4 linked regions of the Homo sapiens genome follow. The protein of the gene in region 4 interacts with the protein of the main gene of each other region in a pairwise test. Each region holds a gene or a part of one and is shown on either strand. Other genes may lie near its edges. The genes, in order: GLIS2, MAB21L3, TNFAIP8L1 and ANKRD36B.

Region 1 (8,033 bases), on a different chromosome or scaffold from region 4:
GCTCCTGCTTCCACAGCACCCGTGCCAGGGTGAGGCTCCCTCCCATAGCGCCCCTGCCCCTCCCACGGGGTGGCGGTCTCCTGGCCCCAGAGCTCTTGTCGGCAGCCACCCTGTCCCTGGGGCAGGTTTGAACCTAGCACCTCAGTAATCTGGGCACAGTACCCCAGAATGTGGCTGGGGGGAGAAGGGCCTTTGCCCACCACTCTCCAAAGCCGCAGCGGGCAGTAGTGGGCTGAGGACTTGGACCTTGGGATGCTCCGCCTGGAATCTTCTGTCTCAGTTCCTGTCACCTGTGCGCCCTCAGCACCTACCTCCTTCCCAACCTTCCAGTTCCTGCTCTAAGCGGCAGATTGAGAGGGAGGGGCACCTGCAGGGTCGGGGAGAAAGCCCGGATCAGGCCTGCAGGGGCTCAGGGCAGTGGTGGCCTCATGTCAGGGCCGGGTTCCTGGCACATCCACGACATACAAGCCATCTTTGCAACTCACTTTTATTGTTTCTTTATAAACTTCCTCTCCCATGGAGGAATATATTGTTATAGTCATTAGCTTATCTCTTTTTTTAAAACTCTATGCTAACAGCAATGGAGCCAAGAGGAGGAAAACATAAGCTACGATAGAAAGGCACTTAGAACCTGTTAAAATACTGACGTCCTGGAATGTGCAACAACACACCAATGACAACCACAAAAAGTACACCGGCCCTGCCGAGCCTGGTCCGTCACCGAGTCGCATGCTGAGCTCGTCGGCCTTCCAGTGCCCTGTTCCTCCGCTCTGCTCAAGTCGCAAACCCATGACCCCGCCAGGGACTTAAGGCCTGGGGCCCTCACAGGGGTGGGGGGTGCTCAGGGCCTGGGTGGGGCCCGAAGAAAGGAGACCAGCTCCCTCCTACCTTGCTCATAGCCCCTTCGAGGGGCAGAGCCAGTGTGGCTGGGCCCTGTCAGGGCTGGAGTCCAAAGCCCAGTGGCAAGGTGGGCCGGGTCAGGGTGACCCCTCTGGGACAGAAGGGCAGTCCGGGAGAGGGTGGGGTCAGCAGAGCTGCCAGAGGACCTGCAGGGCCACTAAGGACCCCAAGGCTGTCCGGGCAGCTGCCTCGTTTTACAGATGGGGAGGTGGAAGGGCCTGGCCACTCAGAGGCCTGGTGACAGGGCAGGCCTAGAAGCCAGAACTCCCAGCTGCCAGGTGGGAGAGGGAGCAGGGAGAGGCCCCAGATGGGGGGTGCATGGCTGCGTCCATCCCTCAGGGCGTCCTGGGATGGGACTGGGGCACAAGGCCCTCCAGCACCACCCTTAAGTGGTTCTGGCCCCTGCCAGGGTCCCTCTGAGTGGCACAGAACCTGGGGGGGCCCACTGGGTGTTAGGGGTGGGGAAGTGCCTCTGAGAAAGCGGCCCAGCAGGGAAAAGCCAGAGGAAGCAACGTGTCATGGGTCCAGCACCCTCCTCCAGCCACTGCTTCCCTCAAGGCCTTCAGTCCACAGCCTCCAGAAAGCTCCCAACACAGCACTGACTGGGAGCCCCCTCCCCTGCATGCTGTCACTTGGAGCCCCCAGACCAGGAGCTGTGTCCCAGCCTGTGGTCGGTCGTCCCCAGCCAGCCTCCCCCTTCCTGTTACAGGACCAAGGACCCAAAGGCCTCTGCAGGGGGCGCTGCCCAGGCCAGGCCCAGCGGGGGTAGAAGGAGGAAGACGGGGCGCTGGGCCTGGCCCCACATGCTCCCTGAGCCAGGGCCCAGGTCACTCAGTATCTTGGCACCACAGCTGGCCTGGCACCTCCCCTTGCCAGCTCAGGGGCCCTCGGACCTGCTTCCCACGCTCCCAGGGTGCCCCAAAAGGTAGAGGGAGGAGACCCTGGGGTGCAGGGGTGGAGTGGCCAGCTATCCCGTCTGGTACTGCAGGCCTGGCCTGGGGTGAGGACGGCGGCTGCAGAGCGGGCCTCCTCCTAACTAGTGGGAGGCGCCTTGTCCTGGGGGGCATGCTTCTACCTGGGGCTTTGCAGGGGCCTGCATCTGTCTTGCTTTCCCTCTGGAGGCAGGGTCAGAGGGAAAGGGGTCCAAGGAGCCCCCAGGGCAGGGGCTGGGTAAGCCTAGGAGGGAAGGGCAGGCCTCTGGTCCCTGGGGGCTCCTCTCAGGAAGGGGGAGCCTGGTGCTAGCAGGGAGGGCAGATGCCACCCCACCCACCCCCTCTGCTGGGAGAGGGCAACTTGCCATGGGTGGTCACTAGGTGAGGGAGGTGCCAGGGTGGGAGAGGGAAACGGGAGGAGGTCGGGCAGGGGAAAGCCTCTCAGAAGCTGAGGGCCAGGTGGTGGGGGACAGACAGGAGCGAGGCTTCAGCACCCAGGAGCACAGCTCTCCCTGCATGACAGGCCAGGTCCCCACCCGGGGGCTGGGAGGCCAGCCATGAATGACCTAGCACCATCCTTGCTCCCGGCGGGCTGGGCTGGGGCTGCCCGGGCAGTAGGACATTATTGCTATTTCACAGAAGAGTTTCCGTTCGTCGGGGGCAGTGCCGGGAGCTGCCGGGGGGGCACCACAACTGTCCGCAGGATGGGCTCAGTTCACCACAGCCGGTTTGAGCAGCACCGAGCCCGGCGGGATGACCACCCAGCCAGGGGCCAACGCCTCTGGGCTGCTGGCAGCTGAGTTGACGCCCGTGGACAGGTCCAGCACGGTGCCTGGCAGCAGGGGGAGTCCATCGGGGCTTGGCCGGGAGCAGCTGCTCTCCGTCCTTTCAAGGGGCGTCTTGTGGCCCTCCATGCCCAGGGCCCTGGTGGGCACCGACCCACGCCCCTTCTCCCCCTCGGCCTTGCCACCAGCTGCGCCAGCAAGGAGGGAGACCACAGGCAAGCCCAGTCCGCCAGCCCCAAAGGGCGAGGGCAGCAGCGGGTTCTTGGCCAGATTGAGAGGCAGGACGGGGCCTGGCAGCCCAGGGCCCATGCCCCCCCCACCCCCACTGCCCCCACCGTTGCCACAGGCCAGGGCACTGAGGTCAAGGGGGCCGGGGGCCAGGGGTAGGGGTAAGCCGGGCAGGCCAGGGCCTCCAAAGAGGGCAGCTGGGTTGGGGATGATGATCTGGGCCCCACTGACATAGGGGCCGCCGTCGGGGGCGGGCAGTGGCGGCTTGGGGGGTGGGCGCAGCTGCAGGAGCTCTTGCTGCTCGTGGGACACAAAGTGGCCATGGGCCTTGATGTGCTTGCGCAGTGAGCTGGGGTCCGTGTAGCGCTTGTGGCAGCCGGGCATCTTGCAGTAGTAGGGCTTGTCCACATAGTGGGTGCGCGTGTGCTTAAAGCGGTCACTGGAGTTGGAATAGCGCTTGTTGCAGCCCTCGTAGGGGCAGACGTAGGGCTTCTCACCTGCAGGGTGGTGCAGTGCAGTGCCGCCATGAGGGGTCTCTCCCCTTCCTGGGTCTCACCCCATGCACTCAACATTTCCCCGGGCCAAGCACTCCCTGGGAACATAGATGCCCCAATTCTGGGGGCAGGGGGCATCCCCAGCACATGGCATGAGATCTGCCCCCAGGCAGGGCACAGAGGCTGAAAACTCAGCCTGGTTGACTCCAGCTCTGCCTAGCCTCGCCCTGCACCCTCTGCTACAGAGGATGTGCCTTTCAGCAGCAGAACATGGCCTTGGAGGCCGGGCCCGGTGGCTCACGCCTGTAATTTCAGCACTTTGGGAGGCCAAGGCAGGCAGATCACTTGAGGCCAGGAGTTCCAGACCAGCAGGGCCAACATGGTGAGACCCCGTCTCTACTAAAACTACGAAAACTAGCTGGGTGTGGTGGCAGGTGCCTGTAATCCCAGCTACCTCAGAGGCTGAGGCAGGAGAATCACTTGAACCTGGGAGGCAGAGGTTGCAGTGGGCCAAGATCATGCCACTGCACTCCAGCCTGGGTGACAGAGTGAGTCTGTCTCAAGAAAAAAAAGACACCATGGCCTTGGAGATCACATCCTGGCACGAGGCGCCCAGCGTGGGCCTGGCCACAGGGAGTGCTGCCTGGGCGCTACTGCCCTCACTCAACAAATGGCTGAAGGTTCACCAGGCATCTTCTGCTGCCCTGGCCAGAGCAGGGGGCCACATGTAGTGACTGACCTCCTGATACATGGCTCTCCACCTGGAGATGTGCTGCCAGGGTGAAATAAACACCAGGAAAAAACATACACATCAGCTCCTTGAGGCTTTGTCATGAAATGAAGAACTTCAATATCTCACTGATTTGTCTTTAATAATGAATTGATAACACGTTGGATGTACCGGGGTCAACGAACCATATTACAATTAATTTCACCCATTTATTTTTGCTGTGTTTTATGCAGCGATTAGGAAATGTAAAATTATGTCTGTGGCTCTGACAACCAGAGCTGTCCTGGTATGGGCCTGGGCTGTAGTGAGGAGTGAAGCCGACCTGGCCTCTGCGATCACAGAGGTGGCATTAGTCAGAAGATACCCACGGGAACCAGGAAATGGCATTGGTGCTCCAAGAGCAGGTGCTGGGTGGGGGTCTGACCCCCAGGGGATGCTTCCCCTAGCAAACTGCATTGGAAAAGGGACCCCTGGGCGATGACATCAACCCTTATCTCTGAGGCCCGGGATTTACTTAACAGTCCCCTCCCCCTGGGGACCTGCCCAGCCGGTCTCAGCTGAGCGCCCCCTTCATGGGCCAAGCCGCCCGGCCCCGGCCTCTTACCTGTGTGCGACCGGTTGTGGATCTTCAGGTTCTCCAGGCGGGAGAAGCTCTTGCTGCAGGTCGGACAGCGGTGTGGCTTCTCGTTGGTGTGTGTGCGGATGTGGATGAGCATCTTGTACCTGCTCCAGGGAGGGCGGGGGGCACGGCTCAGCTCACTGGAGACCCCAGTCCTCCCTCTACCCCTCTCTCCCCCACCTCACCTGGCGTTGAAACCTCGGCCATGGCGGGCGCAGCCCTCCCAGTGGCAGCAGTACCCCGCATCCTTCTCGGGCTTGACATGGTAATCGTTGACATGGTCCACCAGGTCTTGCAGGAGCTCAAAGAGCTGGTTACACTGCGGAGGATGGGAAGTGTTCTGAGCCCATGCGGGGTGACCTGCCCCAGACTCCACACTACTCTTGCTGGCCCCCACTCACCTTGGCCCAGCGACACACCAGCTGCTTGGGCAGGGGCAGGTCTGGCGAGAGGCACTTGTCCTTGGGAGGGGTAAGGAAGGAGGAGGCAGGCAGGTGCAGGGCCCCCCCGGAGCCGAGGGGCAGGAAGAACTGGAAGGAGCTGGGGACACCATCCAAATAGCGCAGTGGCTGGAAGTCCTGGGGTGCGAGGGGAGGGCTAGTCAAGGTCCTGCTGGCCCAGAGCCCCCCGTCCCATCGGTAGTGGACTGAATGGTGTCCCCAAACAGAGACATTCAGGTCCTCTTCTCCCCAGCCCCTACCTGTGCATGTGGCCTTATTTGGAACTAGGATCTTTGCAGATGTAATCAAGTTAACATGAGGTCACACTAGATTAGGGTGGGCCCAACACCCAGTGACTGGTGTGTTTTAAATTTTTATTTTCTTAATTAAAAAAAATATATAGCCAGGTGCGGTGGCTCACGCCTGTAATCTCAGCACTTTGGGAGGCTGAGGTGGGCGGATCACTTGACGTCAGGAGTTCAAGATCAGCCTGGCCAATATGGTGAAACCCCATGTCTGCTAAAAATACAAAAATTAGCCAGGCGTGATGGCACATGCCTGTAATCTCAGCTATTTGGGAGGCTGAGGCAGGAGAATTGCTTGAACCTGGGAGGCAGAGGTTGCAGTGAGCCGAGATCATGCCACTGCACTCCAGCCTGGGTGACAGAGCTAGACCCTGTTTAAAAAAAAAAAAAAAAAAGGCCGGGCACAGTGGCTCACGCCTGTAATCCCAGCACTTTGGGAGGCCGAGATGGGCGGATCAGTTGAGGTCAGGAGTTCAAGACCAGCCTGACCAACATGGAGAAACCCTGTCTCTACTAAAAATACAAAAGTAGCCAGGTGTGATGGTGTGTACCTGTAGTCCCAGCTTGGGAGGCTGAGGCAGGAGAATCGCTTGAACCCGGGAGGCGGAGGTTGCAGTGAGCTGAGATCCGGGCCACTGGCCTCCAGCCTGGGCAATGAAGCAAGACTCTGTCTCAAAAAAATAAATAGAGATGGGGTCTTGCTATGTTGCCCAGGCTAGTTTTGAACTCCTGGGCTCAAGCGATCTTCCCACTTTAGCCTCCTAAAGTGCTGGGGTTACAGGTGTGAGCCACCGTGCCCGGCCATGACTGGTGTCTTTATAAGAGAAACCAGAGAGAGATTCGGACACAGAGGGACAAAGACCGTGTGAAGACAGGGCAGAGCCTGGAGTGAAGCAGCTACCAGGCTAGAGTGCCAGGCATTTCCAGAAGCTGCCAGAAGGCAGGAGAGAGGCAGGGAAGGTTCTCCCCTAGAGCCTTCCAGGTAGACTCCAGCCTCCAGAATTATGAGGGGTAACACATCTGTTTTTTAAACCACTCAGTGTTGGGGTACTTTGTCATGGCAACCCCAGGAAACCAGTCCACCCCTCTCTCCGGAACTCTCACCCCTCCTTACCGAGGCACTGGGCACTGGAGGCAGGTCCCCGTTGCCCTGGCGCTCGGGGGACAGCGAGCTGCTGCCATTGGGGGAGTCCAGCCCAGATGGTGGTGACAGGCTGAGGTCCACGAGAGGGGCTGCTGAAAAGCGTCCCTCCACCTTCTCGGGGAACTTGGAGTTCAGCAGGAAGCCTGAGGGAGAGGCACAGTTCAGGGTGTGCTGGAGTGTAGAGTCCCAGTGGGCCAGGTACTCCTGCCTCCGAACCCCCACTGTGACCTTGGGAGCAGACACCAGCCATGCCCCCAGACCACACGAATGTGAGGAGCAGCCTGTGGAGCTGACAGGTGTGTGACACCACCCACCACCTCTGAGCTTTACCAGCCGCCAGAGCTTGGCCCCCGTGAGCCGGGGAGGGGGGAAGTGCCCGCTTTGCAGACGGGAATGGTCTGGCACGCAGGGTTAATAACAGAACAGGACTCGAACCCAGGGCCCCTGGGTCCCTGTCAGACGGGCAGGTAGGAACCTTTCTAGCTTTTCCCAGGCCCCTTCCTGCCTCAGTGTTCCCTTCTGTAAAGTGGCAGGTTCGGGCTGGGCTGCTCCCATAGCCTTCCCCTTCAGACAAGCGGTGAATCTGGTTTTCGGGTGACTCTGCTCTTGGAGGCAGGGCAGAAGTGGTGCCCACCACCCTGGGCCCAAGCACCGGGAATCCCTGAGAGGCACCTCCTGGGCTCAGACCCAGCCTCTACTGCCCAGGTTGGCCAGCGGCACCACCCCACAGCCTAGGGTGCAGGTCCTGGGACTACTGCCGCTCCTTCTGAATGCCTGGTTGCCCGACCAGCTCTGTTCCAGATCTGCCTAGAGGCCTCAGTTTGCATCGTGTGCCAGCCACGTGAGCTGGGCACTGCAGCTCCCACCTCCCTGCAGACATACGATGCTGGGCGGATGGAAGGACAAGCGTGCGGGCTTCCCATGAACCGGAAGCCGAGAGGGGCTGCAGCTACATGCTGGTGGACACACTTGGCCATTCTCCCTGTCACCATGACTGGATCAGGGCTAAGTCCCCCTGCCCTGCCCAGGGCCAGTACCTGAGGGCGGGGAGCCTGGAGAGCCAGGTGTGGGGCTGTCATCCACCAGGCCCAGCTCCCTGTGCAGAGCACGGGGCCGGACCACACCCAGCGTCCTCTCCCGCTTCTCTCTTGCCGCCCGGAGCTTGGTGATACTCAGCTTCAGGTCGAGCGGCTCGTCCAGGGAGTGCATGGTGAGGGGGCCGGAGTTGGAGGTGGCAGCAGGCAGTGGGCTCCCAGCTGGTCTTCACGCAGGAACCTGGGGAAGGACAGGAGCTGTGCTGTGGCACTGAGACCCCAGGCTTCTCCTCGGGCTGTACTCATGACAGTCTAACAGGAGCAGGAGCAGGGGGCAGTGTGAGGTTGTCTCCTGGGTAGGGAGACCCTCCGAGCGACCTGGCCGGCAGCTATCATGGGGGGAGAGCCAACAGCCTCCTCAG
Region 2 (8,033 bases), on a different chromosome or scaffold from region 4:
TATTTCCCAATATTTTTCTCTTTCTTCCAGTCGTTTGGATTTAACTTGTTGGCCTGTTCAAATTATCACTGGCAGCTGAGCTTCCTCCGTGCTGAGCAGGTGTTACTGGAACAGCTGGATGAAGATGGGGGCTGCCGTAGGAAGTGTTTTCAGGTCATGAGGCACCTGAAGGAGGACATCTGGTGCCCAGGGAACAGGCCGGTTATCACGTCCCACCATCTGCAGGTGAGTGTGGGGCAGGTTGGAGAAGACCCAGGGGCAGCTTTGGATAGGTCATTCTTCCTGTGGCCTCTGTAGGGCCTGGCCAGAGCCACTCAGAAGGGGTAGCATGTGTGAAAAATTCAGGATGAGGTTCTAGTATCTATATTTGCCATCCAACAAATTACTACGTATTATGGAAATATGTAAACTAGCACCATATGGGAGTCCACAACACCCCTGCCCAGGGTAAAATTTCCTCCCTCCCTTCCCTTTTCCAATTCTCTTCTATCCCACTTTTCCTCCCCTCTCACTTTTATTTTACCCACCAAACCAACCTGAGTGCTCACTAGGTGCCAGAAACCCTGCTGAGGTTCAGAAATGAATCACAAAATGTGGTTTGTGCCTCACACTTTGATGGCTTTATGTTTGCGCCAGTCTTTAAACCCACTGCAGCCTACGCACACCTCCTCATGCACACAGACCCACTAACACAGAGGGGACCAGGAAATGCAACACAGAGGTTACCACACACGTAGTGCCACACACTTCTTTCCAGGGTCCAAATCACCAGGCAAGGATCTTCCCTTGCTCTGCCAGCCCCTGCCTCTCCTTGCCCTAAACCCAACAGTACACATTCATTCATGCCTTCACTCACTCATTCAGCAAGTGTTTATTGAGATTACTCTGGGCCAGAGGCCTGCCCCAGTACCTGCTGTGGGCTCAACCTCTGCAGGCACAAAGGTGAACAGACACAGATGTGTTTCCTCACTCATGGCACTTCTGGTCTAGCATGGGAGATAGACATGGGTCAGGCAAGCCAGTGGGTGCGTGTACAATCACACAGTGAGGAAGCACTGGAAAGGGAGGAGTATGGCTCTGTGAAGGCTCAGAGCAGCAGAGCCTGACCTGGACTGGGCAGTCAGGGGGCCTCCCTGGAGAGGGGGCCTTTGACCACCCTCCCGACTCCCTCTTTCTCAAATTGTGAACCACACAGAGTGAAGTGTACTCTCATGTAGCAGCTCTGTGCAGCCTGCTGGAGTAGGGAGGTAGGAGACTCTTGCAGGACACCCCAGCCCAGCCTAGCTAGTGTGGGCTGTGAAGCCTAGCTTCAGCCCTCCTCCCTGGCCCCAGAAAGGATGGACTCCCTTTCTACTCAGGTAAGCACAAGTCCCTGGGGCAGTCACCTATCTGTGAGGTGCCTTCCTCACATACCTCTTCCTTCTCTCATTCGATGGACAAAACTGTCTTCCAGCCCCATGTTACTCTGTCTGCTCTAAAGTAACTTATTGAAGGACAGATACCACATTGATCTTGTCCAGCTGGCATGCTGACCTAACTCGATGTTCTTATTCATTGGGAGAAGGTGAACAAAACCCCCATTATCTCTCCCAATGCTTTGTACATAGTAGCGCATTAAATATTTGTTGAGCAAATGAATGAGTGGCTTCACATCTTACTCAACTTTTCTCTTTTTTTCGCACAAAATCACTAACCTTGCTTCACCTTCTTATCTTTCCAATAACCTGTCCATTTTGACCTGCGGAAGAATCTGTTAACATCTCATTCACATGCACTGGGGCTTTTCTCTGGAGTTCCAACATTCTCAACGTGTCCCAAGCACACTTCCCTAAAAACACGCAGGCTGTTCTCCTGGATGGAGGGCATGTGCTTGCAGAAGATACTTTGATTCTTTCTGTGGATTTAGCTTCTCTTGCTTTCCTTTATACAGGCCACACTAGAAGAGGCAGAGCTGAGACGCAAACTCAAGTCTATCTCATATCAAAACCTCATAACCTTAACGATTGACTTCATTACCTCTCAATTAAGATGGATGGAAATACCATTCGGTGACATGAATATTTCAGGCAGGATTGAATGGGGCCACCATGGATCTCCCAGCCATGGCTGCTTGCAAATCTGTACTCCCCACAAGGGCTGACTTCTATTCTGATGGCTCCTAAGTCACCTGGTGGATTTTAAGGCAACTCCTTAAGGATTCTCTGTTTCAATCCTCCCTGACCCACCTGTGTGGCACAATAGGGCATCCTCAAGGATGGGCATTTTTTTTAAGTGGGCTATTTCTGGAGTAAGATAAACAGAAAGTGCTAACTGCCTTTTTCTCTGGTCTTCCATCCTTAGTCCACAGACAGAATTATCTCCCATTTAGGCATCCCTGCCCTTGAAATGAATGTGGCTGGTGATAAATGTGGTGCTAGACACCATCCCAGATGATGACTTGAGTGTGCTGGATCCTTGCCAAATCTTCATTTTGAGGAAAGTGGAAGAGGTTGGGTTGCAAAACAGCATTAGGAAGCTGTGGCACTCAGCCTTGCCTCACCTTAAGTCTGACACTCTCTTACAAGGCCCTCACCTTCTCCCCAAAAAGGCTCTGCCCCAAGACTATTTCATGTGAAGCAAAAGCTTATCTTTTATTGCCTTATTTATTCCTAAAACCCACTCAAAATACATTGGCTTGCTTATAATGAGCTTAACTGCCCCAGTTTGCTTAGGGAGATAAAAGCTTAATTAACAAGAGGAATTAACATTTTTTCTGGTATCTAGGTTATCTTCGCTTGCATGAAATTATCTCTAACTCATTTATTCATAATAACGTAATCTAAATACATAGTTGCTATGAACTTACAACTGCTCTAAAAAATAAAGACTGTATAAAAATAACCCAATATCTAAACCATAACATTAATGGATAATTCATTAATTCACTTATTCAATAAATGTTTATTAACTTCCTCTCATGGGCTAGCCTTTGCTGGGTACTGGGTAGCTTAATAGTGAATAAAAATAGGCATCATTCACTGCTCTCATAAAGTTTATAATCCAGTAGGGGAAATGATAAAATTAATCACATAAATATAAAAACTACTACTGTTGTCGCTGCTTCTTATGAGAAGTACATGACTAAGAGAGTGTGCAATGGGTGTACTAGGGAAATTTGATCTGATGGACAAAGAAGGGAAAGAAGTGTGCCCTATGCAGCCGAAGCAGGATGTGCAAAGGCTCTGTGGTAGAAGGGAGCATGAAATGGCTGGTGTGGCTACATGAAGAGAGCAAGGGAGGACACAGGTCAAGATGAGTCTGGAAAGGAAGGCAGGGACCAAACCTTATAAACCACACCACATTAAGGATGATGTTTTTAGCTAACAAACAATGGGAAGACCTTGAAGTATTTTATTTTATTAATTTTTTTTTTGTTTTTGAGACGGAGTCTCGCTTTGTTGCCCAGGCTGGAGTGCAGCGGCATGATCTTGGCTCACTGCAAGCTCCACCTTCTGGGTTCACGCCATTCTCCTGCCTTAGCCTCCCAAGTAGCTGGGACTACAGGCACCCGCCACCACGCCTGGCTAATTTTTTGTATTTTTAGTAGAGATGGGGTTTCACCGTGTTAGCCAGGATGGGACCTTGAAGTATTTTAGATGAGAAGGGAAGTAGATGTATATTGGCAGCAGTATGGATGGTGATAATTTGGATGGTGGCAAGAACAGGGATGGGCTGATGAGATCGCTACTGCAGAGGTCCAGTGAGATGTGGAGGCAGTGTGGAGGGGGATGGTAGAATAATACTGGAGGTGAAGGTAAATGGGTAGACTCGAGAAATACTTAGACAAGAGGATTACAGGACTTGACTGGGGACGGTAAGGGAGAAGGGCGACTCCTAGGTTTTCGTGTTGCACAACTAGCTAGTTAAGCAACTCTGGAGGCAGATCAGGTTTGTGCAGGAAGAGCAGGGGTTCAGTTTGGGCATGTTGGGACTGAGATAACTTTCAGATACTCAAGAGATACACGATAAGCAGGTCAGAGGAGAAGTCTGGGCTGGAGACACAAATTTGCAAGTCATTCATATGTAGTGAGAATTAGAGCTGCTGTGGTGGAGGCAACATAGAGCTGAGGAATGAATGTAGACTGAGAGGAGAAGAGGGCCTAGAATTGAGCCTCCAGAAACTCCACTTCTCAAAGGCAGGCCAAGGAGTAAAAGCCTGCCAGGGAGGCGCTGTAATGCTAGGAGAAAAAACCCAGAGAGCAGATTGCTTGGAAGTCAAGTGAAGGATGGCTCAGGAGGGAGGGTGTGGGCGAGAGAACCAGGTCTGCTGAAAGGTCAGGTAAGGTGCAGGCTGACAAAGGCCTATTAGATTTAGAAAAGTGGAGATCACTGGGCCTTGACGAGAGGAGCCTTTGAGGATTAATGAGAGAAGAATCCATATTGGAGCAGACTGAGGCAAGAAATGGGAGGAGAGGAAATGACCACAAATAATAGAGCCGACTCTCCAGAGAAGCCTGGATTTGCAGAGGGAAGAGTGAGGGCAGGAGGCAGATGTGGGGTTGGGGTTGCAGGAGAGCTCTCAACTTGTGAAAAGCAGTTGAGGAAGAGGGTAATCAGTCATATACAGTTCCTGGAAGATGGGATCCAGGGCCCTGTGGAGGGATCAGCCCCACAGGCAGAAGAGGCAGAAGCAGGGAGGAAGAGAGGTGGGTGCCGCAGTAGGCAAGATCTGTCTGGTTTGGGAGGATGAGGGGTTCCATTTTCCCCGTAAAGTAGGAGGCAAAGACATTGCCTGGATTAGTGAACATTGGAAATGTTGGAGGAGAGTGAGGGAATAGATTAGGGAAGAGGTGCGGGAGACCAGCTGGTAAACTGAAGGCCCACCTGAAGTTGGGGATTGTGAATTCATGGTAGATCCAGTCTGCCCAGGCAACTCTTTTCTCCCTCCTTCCAAGGCCACATAAGCTCAATAATTGTTTCCAAGCTATCCTCCTCAATTGCCCGAAACAATGTCTGACAGCACTTCTCCCTTCCACAGACTGTGCTCTTTTGGACCTGCGAGAAATATCCCCACTTTAAAGACTGGCAGGTCTTCAGCAAAGCATTTCTGCGCCTGGTGAGGAAACTGCACAAGTGCGTGAGCCAGCACTTCCTGAAACACTATTTCGTCCGGAACAGCAACCTCTTTCAGTGCACCAACCCGACTGAACTGGACACTGTGGCCCAAAAGCTGGCCACCTTCCTGAAGAACCCCCAGATCGGCCCGCCCTGATGGTTGCCCCGGCCTGGGAGGCTCTTGGACATTTTATTCTGGCTTAACATTGTTCTTTGGATGGTTCCTCAGTCAGGTGCCAGGATCCTGCCTAGGAGAAAGGCCACGAATGGCAGCGGAAATTACATCAAACCAGAAACACTTCAGCAGGGGGAAAACTGTGCCCCAGGATGTCTGGCCCAGGCCTCCCTGGAGCCCAGCAAGCATTTCTGCCCTAGCTAATTCTCCTGGAGACAGCTCTCATCAGGCTTCCCCAGGCACAGATTTGGAACTGGTGACAGTTCTGAACTTAGTTTCCCTTGTTCAGGCTGTGATCGTCTCACAGTGAAGATGGAGACAGAACCCCTGGAAGTCTGGACATGAGCCTGCTGGCCAATACTGTGCCCAGCCCACTGATCATGGGCACATTCTCCTGCCATTTGTAAAATGGGAATGTTAACGTGCCTACCTCTGAGCAGGGCTGTGTGCCTATGAAACTGTGCTGGCGCCTTTTCAAGGGGAAGGCATTGGATCAACACAAAGTGTTCCTGGTTGGTTGAGTAGCTGGTGTTTGCATCCTGGATCGGTACCCACAGCACTGACGCAAAATTGCACCTGATGAGTTAGTGAGCCTGTGCTTCCTTGCTGCCCTCCAGCTTCCTTAGCATGTGGGTCAGTGGCTCCTGATGTTCTGTCTGCTTCGCTGGTATTCTCTAAGCAGGGAGGGGAATGGTTTTGATGATAAGTGTAAGTCAAAGATGAAAGTACAACTCTTGGCCTGATCCCAACCATAGCCCTCTCTTTGCTTCCCATGCCATGGGCCATGGATGGAACTTCCTTATATATTTATGTAAATAACCTAGTACTATGATCTGCATGGAGTGACCTTAGGTGTCTGTCACTGCTCAGTGTGTTCCTTTGCTCACTTCATTCACTCACTCACTCATTGACAAATAATGCTCATTAGGCACCGGGAACACAGCAAAGAGCAAAGTGGATGAGGACCTCCCCCTGGGGATGCCACCTAATGGTGGAGACAAGAAATGAACGACAGATAAACACGCACAGTTATTACAGATGGAAGCAAGTGCTTCAAAGGAAATAAACAGAATGTTGAAGTAGAGTCCACAGAAAGGTCCCCGAAGGATGAAAATGCAAATAGCTGAAGGGGAAGGAAAAGTGACCAAAGGCAGGCATGGTGGGGCTGGCATGAGTCAGAGCACCTGGCCTTGTAAAGCCAGGAAGGAATCAGTATTTTATTCTAAGATCAAAGGTGTGACATTTGGCCTCTCCAGAAGCAGAAGAGTATCACGATCTGACTGCATTTTAAACAATTGTTCTGGTAACTGCATGAAGAAGGTCTGGGGACTCACACAGGAGCTGGGCACTGAGTGCTCTTGAGCCACCCATTTGGAATTTCACAGAGGCCCACAAGGCAACATATTCTGTGTGGCACAACCGATCAGGAATTCTAGGAGTTCTCGGTGAGATCAATGGTTTTTTTCTGGCGTTTATGTAATGCTTCTCAACTCAAGGGGCTCCTTTATTACTTTTGAATGTTTTTGCCCAAATGTCTATACCAAAGATAAATTTCTAAAGCATGAACTACTGATTTTGTTTTCATGAAAATTCACATTTGAAAATGAAAATGATTACTTTTCAAAAGTACTGTAAACGGCAGGAAAGATCCAAAATTGACACCCTAACATCACAATTAAAAGAACTAGAAAAGCAAGAGCAAACACATTCAAAAGCTAGCAGAAGGCAAGAAATAACTAAAATCAGAGCAGAACTGAAGGAAATAGAGACACAAAAAACCCTTCAAAAAATTAATAGATCCAGGAGCTGGTTTTTTGAAAGGATCAACAAAATTGATAGACTGCTAGCAAGACTAATAAAGAAAAAAAGAGAGAAGAATCAAATAGATGCAATAAAAAATGATAAAGGGGATATCACCACCGATCCCACAGAAATACAAACTACCATCAGAGAATACTACAAACTCCTCTACGCAAATAAACTAGAAAATCTAGAAGAAATGGATAAATTCCTCAACACATACACTCTCCCAAGACTAAACCAGGAAGAAGTTGAATCTCTGAATAGACCAATAACAGGATCTGAAATTGTGGCAATAATCAATAGCTTACCAACCAAAAAGAGTCCAGGACCAGATGGATTCACAGCCGAATTCTACCAGAGGTACAAGGAGGAACTAGTACCATTCCTTCTGAAACTATTCCAATCAATTGAAAAAGAGGGAATCCTCCCTAACTCATTTTATGAGGCCAGCATCATCCTGATACCAAAGCCGGGCAGAGACACAACTAAAAAAGAGAATTTTAGACCAATATCCTTGTTGAACATTGATGCAAAAATCCTCAGTAAAATTCTGGCAAACCGAATCCAGCAGCACATCAAAAAGCTTATCCACCATGATCAAGTGGGCTTCATCCCTGGGATGCAAGGCTGGTTCAATATACGCAAATCAATAAATGTAATCCAGCATATAAACAGAACCAAAGACAAAAACCACATGATTATCTCAATAGATGCAGAAAAGGCCTTTGACAAAATTCAACAACCTTCATGCTAAAAACTCTCAATAAATTAGGTATTGATGGGACGTATTTCAAAATAATAAGAGCTATCTATGACAAACCCACAGGCAATATCATACTGAATGGGCAAAAACTGGAAGCATTCCCTTTGAAAACTGGCACAAGACAGGGATGCCCTCTCTCACCACTCCTATTCAACATAGTGTTGGAAGTTCTGGCCAGGGCAATTAGGCAGGAGAAGG
Region 3 (8,331 bases), on a different chromosome or scaffold from region 4:
ACTGAGTCATGTCCTGTAGCAGCTGCTCAGAACCACAGACATATCTCCCTGTTTTGGGGCGTTCTCTCTGCCCAGAGCTAAGGTTCCTGGGAGTAGTCCTTTGTCAACGCTGGTTGAACATGAGGGGATAAATACCCTAGCTTTTCTGATCTCTGGGTGCGGCGATTCTCAGCTGTTTTCTTTCTTTTTCCTTTTCTTTTTCTTTTTTTTTTTTTTCAGACAGAGTCTTGCTTTGTCACCCAGACTGGAGTCCTGTGGCACAATCTCGGCTCACTGCAACCTCCCAGGTTCAACCTCCCAGGTTCAGATGATTCTCCTGCCTTAGCCTCCTAAGTAGCTGAAACCACAGGCCCTCACCACCACGCCTGGCTAATTTTTGTATTTTCTGTAGAGGTGGGGTTTCACCATGTTGGCCAGGCTGGTCTCGAACTGACCTCAAGTGATTTGCCCGCCTTGGCCTCCCAAAGTCCTGGGATTACAGGCGTGAGCCACCGCGCCCGGCTGCCGGTGTCTTATTGAGGCCATCAGACAATGCAAGAGTGCTGAGTCCCAGCACCCTGTCCTTGCAGTTTTACAAATCTCTGAATCTGCTACGATCACTGCATCCATCTTCCAGATGCAGTCACTGAGGTTCCAAAAAGTGAAGTTTCCTTTCCTGCCCGGGATGACTAAGGACGCTCTATCCCCAGGGGCAGCAGAAGATCGGGCTGCCCTCTCCCCAAACACACCCACCCACCCACCCACAGGGGCACACACGGGCACACACGCACCGTCTACCTCCCCAGACACCCGGCTGACACAGGCTGGCGTCTGCACGGCTGACACTTGTAAATCCACCCTCCTTCGGGGGCAGGCTGGCTCCTTCTCTGGCAGCAGGAAGATAGAGGGAGTTGGTTTAGTGGTTGGGGGGAAAGGAGTGCGCCCCTGACCCCATGCCCAGCCCCCGACCCCAGGGAGGGTGACAGCCCCTCCCTCTCTTCCAGTGACCTTGGGAAAGTTCCAGGAGGCCCCCGGGCCTGGACTTTGAGAGGTGAGCGCTCCAGCAAGATTCGCTCCCCTCCTTCTGTCCCTGCTCTGGGCCCGCCCACCCACTCCCTTTCTCAAGCGGCCTTGGAAAGGGTCTTGCAGAGACAGACAGATGGCCTGGGGACAGATGGCGGACGTGTAGGAGTTACCACTGGGAGAGGGGTAAGGGGGAGGGGAGTGCGTTCTGGCCCCCAAGACGAGTCCCACAGGCTCCTGCAGAACAGAATAAGCCGCCTCCTTCAAGCCCCTCAACTGGGATATCATCGTCCCCCCGCAACCAGGATCCCATCACCCCATAAACGGAATCCCATCCCCCATCCCAACCAGGGTCTCATCATCCCCGCAAACGGAGTCCCATCGACCCCACATTCAAGGTTCCATAGCTCCCCCAAACGGGATCCCATGGCACTGGGCCGGGGCAGAGGCCCGGAGAAGAGGGTCGCTAGCTGCAGGTTGCACAGCCCGGCAGGGTGCGAGGCCTGGCCTGGGGGTGCGGGTGACTCTGGTGGGTCTAGGCTCCGCGGGGAGACTTGGGCCTGGAGACCCCGCCCCGCACGCAGATCCCGCCCGCCCCGGCCGCGGGTTCCGGGGAAGCGAAGGCGCCGCCAGCCCGGGCTGTGGGCAGAGCGCGCCCTCTGCCGGGCATGATCGGAAACGGCGCGGCGGCGACTCCCGGACCCTCGGGACTCCGGACCCGACTCCCACCCGGCTGAGCTTTACCGGGTTATAGAGCCCCCAACTCTGGATCGATCCCCGACCTCCTAAGGAACCGCGACACTGGGCTGAGCTCCCGCCTTGGGCTAAACCTCAATCCCAGTAGAGCTGGGACCTGGGCTGAGACCCCAACTTTGGATAGAGCCTCTGATCTGTCTTTGAGCCCTGGTCCTGAGCCAAGCCTCAAACTCCAATAGAGTCTCCATCGACCTGAGCTCCCAACTCAGGGCTGAGCCCCCCTCTAGGCTGAGGTCTGATACGGAATAGAGCCTGCGACCCCTTCTAAATCCCGACTCTGGGCTGAGCCTGGACCCTCGATAGAGTCTCCAACTCTAGGCTGAACCCTAACCCTGGGCTGCACCCTTACTGTAGACAGAGCCCAATCCCAGCAGAGGCCCTATTCTCACTAAGCCCCATCACCCAGTAAGCCTGCATTCCCGGCCAAGATCATCCCTCCCCCACCCCTAACACCCACTGAACCCTAGCCCTCCCGAGTCCCAACCTTCTTATCTGATACAGAAAAGAGACCAGGTGTGGTGGTTCTTGCCTGTAATCCCAGCGCTTTGGGAGGCAGAAGCAGGAGGATCGCTTGAGGCTAGGAGTTCGAGACCAGCCTGGGCAACATAGTGAGACACCCCCTATCTCTATTTAAAAAAATAAAAATTAGCCGAGCTTGGTGGTGCACACCTGTGATTTCAGCTACTTGGGAGGCTGAGGCAGAAGGATTGCTTGAACCCAGGAAGTTGAGACTGCAGTAAGCTGTGACTGCACCACTGCATTCCAGCCTGGGTGACAAATCGAGACCCTGTCTAAAAAAAAAGAAAGAAAGAAAAAAGGTGAAATCATGCTAGGCTCAGATGCCTCCAGTCCTCCTGCCCTGATGGGGAGACCCCCTTGATGCTGGGGTTGCGAGAGGAGCTGTACACACCACACCAAAGTCAGACCTAATCAGGTCCTAATCCCATCTCTGCCTCATCTGGCTGTGTGGCCTGGAACCTATCCCTTCCTCCCTCTGGGGTTCCATTTCGTCATCTGTGAAATGGGACAGTCACTCCTGACTCTACCACCTTGTGCCTGTGTGACCTCAGGCAAGTTACTTCCTCTCTCTGGGCCTCAGTCTCCTCCTCCAAAATGAAATAAGAAGGTGTTTTGTTTTGTTTCTTGAAACAGAGTCTCGCTCTGTCGTCCAGGCTGGAGTGCAGTGGCGCGATCTCGGCTCACTGCAACCTCTGCCTCCTGGGTTCAAGTGATTCTCGTGCCTTAGTCTCCCAAGTAGCTGGGACTACAGGCGTGCACCACCACTCCTGGCTAATTTTTTCATATTTTTGCTTTATTTTTTATTTTTTGAGATGGACTCTTGCTTTGTAGCCCAGGCTGGAGTGCAGTGCCGCGATCTCGGCTCACTGCAATCTCTGCCTCTGGGGTTCAAGCAATTCTAGCACCTCAGCCTCCCGAGTAGCTGGGACTACAGGCGTGCACCACCACGACCAGCTAATTTTTTTTTTTTGTATGTTTTATTTTTTGAGATGGAATTTTGCTCTGTCGCCCCGGCTGGAGTGCAGTGGCCCGATCTTGGCTCACTGCAACCTCTGCCTCCAGAGTTCAAGCGATTCCCCTGCCTCAGCCTCCTGAGTAGCTGGGATTACAGGCATGTGCCACCACACCCGGCTAATTTTTGTATTTTTAGTAGAGACGGGGTTCCACGATGTTGTCCAGGCTGGTCTCAAACTCCTGACCTCAGGTGATCCGCCCACCTCGGCCTCCCAAAGTGCTGGGATTACAGGGGTGAGCCACCGGGCCCAGCCAATGAGATATTTAACTTACTTTTGCCTCCTGAGGCCTGTGCCTCGGTCTTCCTGAATCCCGTGTGCAGGTCAGGACACACAACAGGCCCTCAACAATTTGTTGTCTGGCTTCCTGGAGGAAGAAGCAGCGAGGTTGCTATGGGCTCCCTAGGCCCTAGCTGCAACCGGGACCCAGAGTTGGGCTGCAGGGCGGAAATGGTGCTGCAGGGGACCTGGGAGCAGCTCCAGGGCCTGGTTCCCAGGACTCACAGCTGCATCCTCCCCGGGGGACCCCAGCTGGCGCTGCGCAGCCGGGAGGCTCCTGTGTGTCCTGCAGGCTCATTCCTACGGAAATCGAGGCTGGACCTGGGGATCCTCTGATGAGGTCTCCAGGAGCCCTCCACCTCACCCCAAAGATTCATCTATAGCCCCACAACCCTGGGTTAGATTCATCCCTTCTTGTGGCACAGAACTCTGTATTTTTAAAATTTTAACTTATTTTGATCTTCTTCTTTTTCTTTCTTTCTTTTTTTTTTTTTTTTTGTAGAGACAGGGTCTCCCTAGGTTGCCCAGGCTGGTTTCAAACTCCTGGGCTCAAGGGATCCTCCTGCCTTGGCCTCCCAAAGTGCTGGGATTCCAGGCGTGAGGCACCACACCTAGTTGGAATCTGCATTTTAAAATGGACTCTCAGATCTTTCTGACGCGAAGGGTTCCCCGAGGCCGTACTTTGAGAAACACGCTTCTGCCGAAATTCCTATTACCCAGGCGGGTAAACTAGCCCCAGAAGGAGGAAGGGGCCCGTGCAGAACCACGTGGTTGGTCTGTTTTGCCTTTTGGCTCTCTGGTCTCTTCCTGTTGGTGTCTCTGTGCCTCCCTCCCCAGGTTCTCTGTCTGTCTCGTACTCTTATCTCTTCCCTTTTCTGTGGCCGGCACCCCCACGACGGCCTCGCCCCCGCATCCGGGCCCCTTCGCGATTCCGGAGGAATCCCCCAGAGCCGCCTGACCCCGCCCCCAGGCTCCGCCCCTTCCCCCCACTTCCCCCCCGTCGCAGTGCCCTGCTCCCATTGGCCTTTTCGTACATTGCCCGCCCTGTCATTGGCTAATCCGGAGCGCTCGGCCCGCCCCCCAGGCCTGGCAACTCTCCGGTCCCTTCCGCGCGGGCGGGGCGAGTGGAGGGCGTGGCCTGCCGAGGGGCGAGGCGAGTGGAGGGCGGGGCCGCGCTGCCCGCCCCGCCCCGGCCCCGGCCCCGGCTCCGGCGCTGCTCCCACCGCCGCGGCAACGGCCCCGGCCCACGGAGGCGGCTGGACGGACCCCCGACGGTTGGACGTACGGACTCTGCTTCGAGAGTAGGTGAGCGAGCAGTGCCGGGGCGCCCCCCATTTCAGCGCATCTCGGGGGCCACCTGGCCGCCCTCTGTCTCTCCCGCCCCTTAATGCTTCTGCACCCCACCGCCTGTCCGTCTACATTCCTGCCTCAGTTTCCGTCTGTCTCTCTGTCACTCTCGCTGTATAGGTTAGGGGGAGACAGATTGAGTCTCAATTGCCCCCCTTGGCGTGGGGCTCTGCTCTGGGACCAGCACCCCCATCCCCCATGTGGACTCTAGTGGACTCTGCCCCCTTTAACTGTAGGGCCGCAGGTGCTCAGGCCAGATTCCAGAACCCTGAGGGCATTCCAGGCGGTGGGCAGCTGGGCCAGCCGTGCGGAGGTGGGCATGACTGTAGCTTCTAGCTAAACCAGGCATCGGTCCAGGCATCGGTGGCGGGGAGCCAGGCCTAGGCCAGCCCGGGCCCACCCAGACTGGCCCCTAATGAGCTCCCAAGTGGCCTGTGGGGACTTGGCCTCAGTTTTGCCAGCTGTGAACTGGGACCGTCGCTGCTAAGGTAATTGGCAGGTGATCTGAAGGACACCTGCCGCCTCCTGGCCTTTTCTGTGAAGTCGAACTAGGCCCATTTCCTGGGATGGGAAACTAAGGCCTAGAAAGAGGCCAATGCTTCCAATGTTTGTCCAGGGAAGTGGGGACAGAGGCAGGACAGAATCTGTTTTCTCTGCATCCTCACATTTCCCAGCACCTTCTCTATGGAGGGGGGAAGGGCTGGTGGAGGAGCAGCCCCAGGTGTAAACAGGCCGCCAGAGTTTATTTCCTGAGCCAGTCCCAGCTCAGCTGGAGGCGATGAACGCCTTGGGAGGCCCCAGGGGGGCCAGCCCAGTGGTGGCGGAGCTTGGACCAATCTAGGTTTGAGCTCTGCCACCCGCATGATATCTTGAACCAGTTTTTCAATTCTGCGGAGCCTCAGTTTCCTCATCTGTAAAACAGGAGTGGGTCGTAACTCCCCAAGTTGAGGGCTGCTGGGGGATCAGATGCAGGAATACAGGCCCTGCTCATAACCTGCCTGACTCTCGCTGTGGCTCTGCCCCAGTCACACTGGCCTCCTCCTGTTTCTCCAACACCCCAGGCGAGGTCCTCTCTCAGGGCCTTTGCATGGGCTGTGCCCTCTGCCACTACGGCAGGTCCGAGGGCGCCAACTTTGAAACATAACAAGCTCCCTGGATGGGCCGGACCCAGGACCTGCACAGGCAAGGGCTGGGAGGGGCAGAGGAGGGGCCGCTCAGGGACGCTGTACCTATGGAAACCGTGAACAAAGGGCTGTCTCCAGCCACACAAACACCTGGGTGAATCGGGCACTGGCCAGAGGCTGGAGCAGCCTGGGATACAGGTGGTGGGTGAGTGCCTGGACCCCTGCAGGGAATATGGGGCCGGGGGGGGGACTTGAACCCTGCTCCAATGGTGGGGTGGCTCTGCAGACGGGTGCAGGTCTGAGGCCCCGCGGTACGGCCCCTCCCACTGTGTGGCCTTGGACCGACGGTCAGGTGCCCCCAGAGCCTCAGTTTCCTCATCCCCGTTCCCCCAGGGGTCAGCCCAGGTGGGTGAGGGGTCTTTTGATTGCTTGACAATTCAGTATGGTGGGTTCCGGAGGCCTCAGTGTCCCTGTCTGTCCAATGGGGCCACGAAAGGGTGCCTTGAGGACAAAACTCCAGCCGTTGACAGGGGAACACTCCTCCCAGAGAGACGTCAACGCTAAAAAATGACTCACACTTGCCCAGGTACAGCTCAGGTGTTACAGACGGGGAGCAGGGCAAGGAGGCAGAGCGAGAGGCAGGAACGGCCCAGTTCCACAGCATGCCTGCCCCTTCCCAGCATCTCCCGACACCCCTCAGCAGATGACCTCCCTGGAATCACACCCGCTCGAGCTTTGACGCAGGGACCTCTGGCAGAGTTCTTGGGATCTTGTAAATCCCCAGCTTCTAGGCCTCAGTTTCCCCATCTGTCCAATGGGGCTGGTCATCTCCTTTTTCTTGTGGGGCTGAGATAACTGTGGGGAGGGAGGGTGCTTTGAGGGGTGGGGGAGATTCAACAAGATATTGTTAAAAGCCCGAGGAGGGGATTACAGGACACAGTACTTCTAGAAGCTTCCTAAGGCTTCGATCCTTCCCCTCTGGGGTGGGCTCTGGGAGAGACGAGACTTGAACCCCAAATGTGCCATTGACTAGGATGAGGAAAGGATTGCACTAGGTTAAAGGCTGGGTTCAAATTCTGATTCTGCCACATCACTGCTTTATAAACAGGCAAGCTCCTGACCCTCTGTGACTCAGTTTCCTTATAACCAAAAACTTGCAGGTCCATCTAGAGAATTTCCCAGCCTGGGCAACATGGTGAAACCCTGTCTCTACTTAAAACAAAGAAAAAAAAATTAGCCAGGTGTGGTGTCGCAGGCCTGTAGTCCCAGCCACTCTGGAGGCTGAGGTGGGAGGATCACCTGAGCCCAGGGAGGTTGAGGCTGCAGTGAGCCGAGCTCATGCCACTGCACTTCAGCCTGGGCGACAGGAGTGAAACCCTGTCTCAAAGAAAAAGAAGAGAATTGGCTGGGCGCCGTGGCTCACGCCTGTAATCCCAGCACTTTGGGAGGCTGAGGTGGCCGGATCACCTGAGGTCAGGAATTCGAGACCAGCCTGGCCAAGAGGGCAAAACCCTGTCTCTACTAAAAATACAAAAATGAGGCGGGCGTGGTGGTGGGTGCCTGTAATCCAGCTACTCAGGAGGCTGAGGCAGGAGAAACACTTAAACCCAAGAGGCAGAGGTTGCAGTGAGCCGAGATTGCACCACTGCTCTCCAGCCTGGGTTGACAGAGTGTGAGACTCCATCTCAAAAAAAAAAAAAAAATTAAAAATATACACATAAAATAAATAAAATAGATGGGGGATCTGGGAGGGCTTCCTGAGGAGGGGCCATGTAAACCCAGACCTGGATGACAAGAAGGAAACAGCCATGTGGAGACCTGGGAGAAGAGCAGCTCAGGCAGAGGGCACAGGTTGTGTAAAGGCCCTGGGGCAAGATGGCGCCTGGCATGGTAGAGGAGCAGCAAGGAGGCCCGTGGGGCTGGAGCAGTGAGGAGGAGGAGAGAGGGAGGAGGGGAGGGCAGGGAGGGGACAGGGCAGGGTGCGCAGGATCTTATGGGCTGCCAGGAATACTTGGCTTTGACCCCAAGGGAGGTGGGAGCCATGGAGGGTGGTGGGCAGGGGAAGGATGGAACCTGACTCAGGTACTCACAGGCACCCATTGGCTGCTACAGGGAGGACAGACGGGGGGCATGGGGATAGATGGTGCTGAGGGACGAGGGGACCAGGATGGAGGCTGTGGGGGAGATAAGAAGTGGGTTGCGTTAGGCCAGGCAGGGTGGCTCATGTAATCCCAGCACTTTGGGAGGCTGAGGCAAGTGGATCACCTGAGGTCAGGAGTTGGAGACCAGCC
Region 4 (4,748 bases):
TAAAGAATCTGCCTGGCCACTATTTGGTAGAGCAGTTGTGATGTGCTGGGGGATCCCTTCCACCCCCAGTCATTTGGGACTCTCCAAAGCTGGCCCCATCCTCTCCCCCAGGCCCCAGTTGGAAGGACTCCCACTGGGCAGGAACTCCAGAACTCCCTCCCAGGGAGAATTCAAATTCCTCTCAGCCCCAGACACCAGTGGGGTAGCTGGAGGCCCTGGTTGGGAGGAACAGATTGGGAATCCCCTTAAAGATTCTGTCTGGGGCCGGCCACGGTGGCTCATGCCTGTAATCCCCATACTTCGGGAGGCCCAGCAGGGTGGATCACTTGAGGTCAGGAGTTCCAGACCAGCCTGGCCAACATGGTGAAACCCCATCTCTACTAAAAATAAAAAAATTCGCTGTGCGTGGTGATGGGCACCTGTAGTCCTAGCTACTTGGGAGGCTGAGGCAGAAGAACTGCTTGAACCAGGGCTGTGATGGGTGCTGTAAGCCGAGATCATGCCACTGCACTCCAGCCTGGGTGACAGAGCAAGACTCCTTCTCAAAAAAAAAAAAAAAAAAAAAAAAAAAAAAAAGGATCTGGGCACATGTTGGGAGAGCAGCTGTGCTATTCTAGGGATCCCTTCTACCCCACCAGTTTGCACTGTCCAAAGCCCACAGGCTGGAATGGCTGTGTCACCCAAACAGCAAAGATGGCGGCCAGCTCCTCCCCTGGGAAACTCATCCCAGGGAGCTCCAGCATCCTTGGCACAAGCTGGCAAGTATTGGCTGAAATGACAGGTGCCCTGGAGAAATTTGAAAGGGTTATCCACATCCGGCTGCTGATTATTTTCACAATTTTCCTGAGATGTCGTTATCATTCTTTGACTCTCCTTTCTATAGTCAGACATTTGGCTCTCAGAGGTGACTTTCTGGCTGAAGAATGTGGATTCGTCACTGTCTTGTGCTCAATGTAGAGGGGGCTCTTAATTCCAGAAATGTCCATATCTGATGAAAGAAAGCGAAGAATGAAACAAAAAGAGATATGTACCGTATTCATAAGTAGATTCAATGCTCTTAATTCCAGAAATGTCCATATCTGATGAAAGAAAGCGAAGAATGAAACAAAAAGAGATATGTACCGTATTCATAAGTAGATTCAATGCTATTAAGATGTCAGTTCTTTCCAATGTATAGATTCAATGCAATTCTACTCTAAATGAAAATGTTTATATGGAGAGGCAAAAGACCTTGAATAGCTAACACCATATTGAAGGAGAAGAACAAACTTGGAGGACAGACACTACTCAATTTCAAGACTTACCCTAAAGCTACAGTAATGGAGACAGTGTGGTATTAGTGAAAGAACAAACGGATAAAATGAGATAGAGAGTTCACAAATAGAAACACATTAATACATTCGATTAATTTTTGACAAAAAAGTAAAGGCATTATGATGATGAAACAGTTTTTTCAGGAAGGGCTGCTGGAATACCTGGATATCCACATGCAAAAAAAAAATAAATTGCAGACCTTACACCCCCACCAAAATTAACTCAAAATGGATCAGCAACATAAATATACAAAAAACTATAAAATTTATAGAAGATAATATAGAAGGAAATACAGATTATCTTGGGTTTAATGATGACCTTTAGAAAAAACACCAAAGTTGAAGTCAATAGAAGAAAGAATTGACAAGCTGGACTTGATGAAAATGTAACATTTTTACACCATTAAAGACACTGAAAGAAAAGAGAAACCACAGATGGAAAAAAATTTGCCAAAACGTATCTGATTAAGAACTATTATTCAAAACATATTAGTATTCTTAAAGCTGAGCAGTAAAAGACATGAGCTAAAGACCTTAACAAGTACCTCACCAAGTAAATTATACAAATGGAAAATAAGCATATGTAATGAGGCTACACATAATATTTCCTCAGAGAAATGCAACCATGAGATGCCACTGCACACGTATTAGAATAACCAAAATCTAGAACCACTGACAACATCAAACGCTGGCAAGGATGTGGAGCAAGAGGAAACTTCATTCATTGCTTGTGGGAATGCAAAATGGTGCAGTCACTTCTTGAAAGTTGTATTCTATGTACCTCAACAGCATGGCCTTCACTGTTCATATTCCTATTATCATTTTGGTCGACCACTTAACCAAGGTCTAATTAAGTTCCACAAGTTTCCTCATCTTCCTGTCTTCTTTGCCTATTACCCAGTTCCAAAGCAAATTCTGCATTATCAGGTGTTTTTATAGCAAAACCCCACTCCTTGGTACTAATTTCTGTGTTAGCAACACAGAATAACACAGAAAAGAGCAACACGGAAAAACACAAATTTTTGTGTTGCTATAAAAAAATAGCTGAGACTAGGTAATAAGGTATAAGGAACAGGTATAAGACTAGGTATAAGGAACAGAGGTTTGTTTGGCTCACAGTTTTGCAGGCTGTAGAAGAAGAATGGCAGTGGCATCTGCACAGCTTCTGGTCAGGGACCCAGAAGGCTTTTACTTGTGGCTAAAGGTGAAGAGACAACGGGTATGACACACATGGCTAGAGAGGTAGGAAGAGAGGGGAGAGGTGCCACACTGTTTTAAACAACCACCTTTCGTGTAATGCAGTGAGAACTCACTCATTAGTGAAAAAAGGGCAAAAAGCTATCCAGGAGAGATCAACCACCATGACCCAAACACCTCCCACTAGGTCCCACCTCCAACATTGGGGATCAAATCTCGACACAATATTTGGAGGGTACAAATTTGCAAACAATATCACTCTCTTTTTGTCTTTAACTTTGGACAATTTGATTATAGTGTATCTTGTTGTGAGTCCCTGGATTCACCTTATTTGGTTTCCTTTGGGCTTTCTGGATCAGGCTTTCTGTTTTCTTCCCCATGCTTGATAAATTCTCTGTCATTATTCCTTTAAACACTTTTCCGTTCCTTTCTTCCTCACTTCTCCTTCAGGCATGCCAATAATGTGTGAGTGGTCCTGCTTGATGGTGTCCCATAACTCTCTAAAGTTGTCTTCACTCCGTTTGCATTATCTTTTTTTCTGATCCTCAGGTTAGATAATTTCCAGTGACCAGTCTCAAAGTTCACTGATAGATTCTATTAATGGACACCTCTATTAAATTTTTTCAGTTCAGTTACAGTACACTTTAGATCTATGATTTGTTTGACATTATTGTATAACGTTTTTCCTTTTCTTGAAGTTCTCAACTTGTTCTTGCAAAGCTATCTTGACCTCAGTGATTATTGTTATGACCATTATTTGGAAATCTCTGTCAGATAAATTACATATCTGCACTTCACTCAGGTGCTGGAGATTTATCTTGTTTTCTTGCTTTGAATATATTTCCCTGTTTCTTCATTTTTCCTCGACTCTCTCTGTTGGTTCCCGTGCATTTGATAAGACTGGCCTCATGTAGGAAAAGGATCTCACCAAACTTTCCAGCCAGAGATCTTCAGGTACCTCTCAAGTCCTTGTGTGCTCTAGTATTGACTGTTTTTGGTGGCTCCCTGGAACTTAGGATGTGCCACGCCTTGTCAGTAACCAGAAATTGGTTAAGGTAGGAGCCAGACAATCCAGATGTAGCTAGAAAGTTAGAAGGCTGGAGGAGTGTTTCAGTTCTTTCTAGCTACATGATGAAGATTAGTATGGACATTTATCTCCCACTCTCTCTCCATTAAGCTTGGTAGAGGATCTGTGACAAACACCTATGCACACTCTGGATGCAGCCTCTGATCCTGAGGAGATAGCTTCTGAATGTGGGCCCATTGTATGCTTACTTCTTTGTTTTCTATGGTCTAAATACATTCAAAAATACAAAATCCTGTCGACTCACAGAGCAGAGTTCTTAAGAAAACAGTTCCTTGGGCACTAACCACGGAGGTTGTAGAATTTCAATGCATAATCAAGCTCCTTCTGGGAGCTTGATTCAATGCATAATCAAGCTCCTTCCGGGAAGAATGGGTAGGCTTGGATTTATTACTGGGTTGAACCCGACATAAGACTGGTAGTGTCAAACTATGGTTCCATCTGCCAGATGAATTATACTTTGTAAGCCACATTAGCCCCCATGATGCCAGTATTTAAATACAAAGCTAGAAATGATTAATAGGGTGAGAAAAGCATGTTGAAAGCTCAGATAGGCTGAAAGCTAGGCAACTTACATCAAACAGTAAACTAAGCTGTGAATGCAAAAAAAAAAAAGTTCTTAAAGGAAATTAAACAGACTACTCCAGTGAATGCACAAATGATAAGTACAATGGTATTATTGCTGATGTGAAGACAGTTTTAGTGGTCTGGATAGAAAATCAAATGAGCCACAACATTTCGCTAAGCCAAAGCTGAATCCAGAGCTAAGCCTTAGTAACATTCTTTAATTCTATGAAGTCTGACACAGGTGAGGAGGCTGCAGAAGACAAGTTTAAAGCTAGCAGAGGTTGGTTCATGAGGTTTAAGAAAAGAATCTTCATAACATAAAAGTGCAAGGTAAAGCAGCCAGTGCTGATAGAGAAGCTGCAGCAAGTTATCCAGAAGATCTAGCTAAGATCATTGATGAGGGCAGTTATGCTAAATAACAGATTTTCAATGTAGACAAAACAGCATTATACTGGAAGAAGAGGATACCTAAAACTTTCACAGCTATAGAGGAGAAGTCAATGCCTGGCTTCTAATCTTCAGAGGACAGGCTGACTCTTTATGTACTGGCTAATGCAGCTGGTTACATTAAAACATTAAAGGCAGTA

The links.
Region 1: the proteins of ANKRD36B (region 4) and GLIS2 interact in binary tests that used the Homo sapiens proteins (3 or more experiments, as listed by UniProt).
Region 2: the proteins of ANKRD36B (region 4) and MAB21L3 interact in binary tests that used the Homo sapiens proteins (3 or more experiments, as listed by UniProt).
Region 3: the proteins of ANKRD36B (region 4) and TNFAIP8L1 interact in binary tests that used the Homo sapiens proteins (3 or more experiments, as listed by UniProt).

The regions. Positions count from the first base shown.
Region 1 is NC_000016.10:4,332,034-4,340,066, reverse strand, and holds the end of GLIS2 (zinc finger protein GLIS2), read right to left. Parts: intron 7,853-8,033; 5' UTR 7,787-7,852; coding exon 7,615-7,786; intron 6,721-7,614; coding exon 6,548-6,720; intron 5,267-6,547; coding exon 5,090-5,266; intron 5,008-5,089; coding exon 4,874-5,007; intron 4,793-4,873; coding exon 4,674-4,792; intron 3,343-4,673; coding exon 2,543-3,342; 3' UTR 472-2,542; downstream 1-471. UniProt on the Homo sapiens protein: Can act either as a transcriptional repressor or as a transcriptional activator, depending on the cell context. Acts as a repressor of the Hedgehog signaling pathway. Represses the Hedgehog-dependent expression of Wnt4.
Region 2 is NC_000001.11:116,128,115-116,136,147, forward strand, and holds part of MAB21L3 (protein mab-21-like 3), read left to right. Parts: intron 1-30; coding exon 31-225; intron 226-5,017; coding exon 5,018-5,251; 3' UTR 5,252-8,033.
Region 3 is NC_000019.10:4,634,756-4,643,086, forward strand, and holds the start of TNFAIP8L1 (tumor necrosis factor alpha-induced protein 8-like protein 1), read left to right. Parts: upstream 1-4,760; 5' UTR 4,761-4,874; intron 4,875-5,261; exon of another isoform or gene 5,262-5,404; intron 5,405-6,196; exon of another isoform or gene 6,197-6,245; intron 6,246-8,331. UniProt on the Homo sapiens protein: Acts as a negative regulator of mTOR activity.
Region 4 is NC_000002.12:97,491,868-97,496,615, forward strand, and holds the end of ANKRD36B (ankyrin repeat domain-containing protein 36B), read right to left. Parts: intron 1,080-4,748; exon of another isoform or gene 989-1,079; 3' UTR 796-988; downstream 1-795.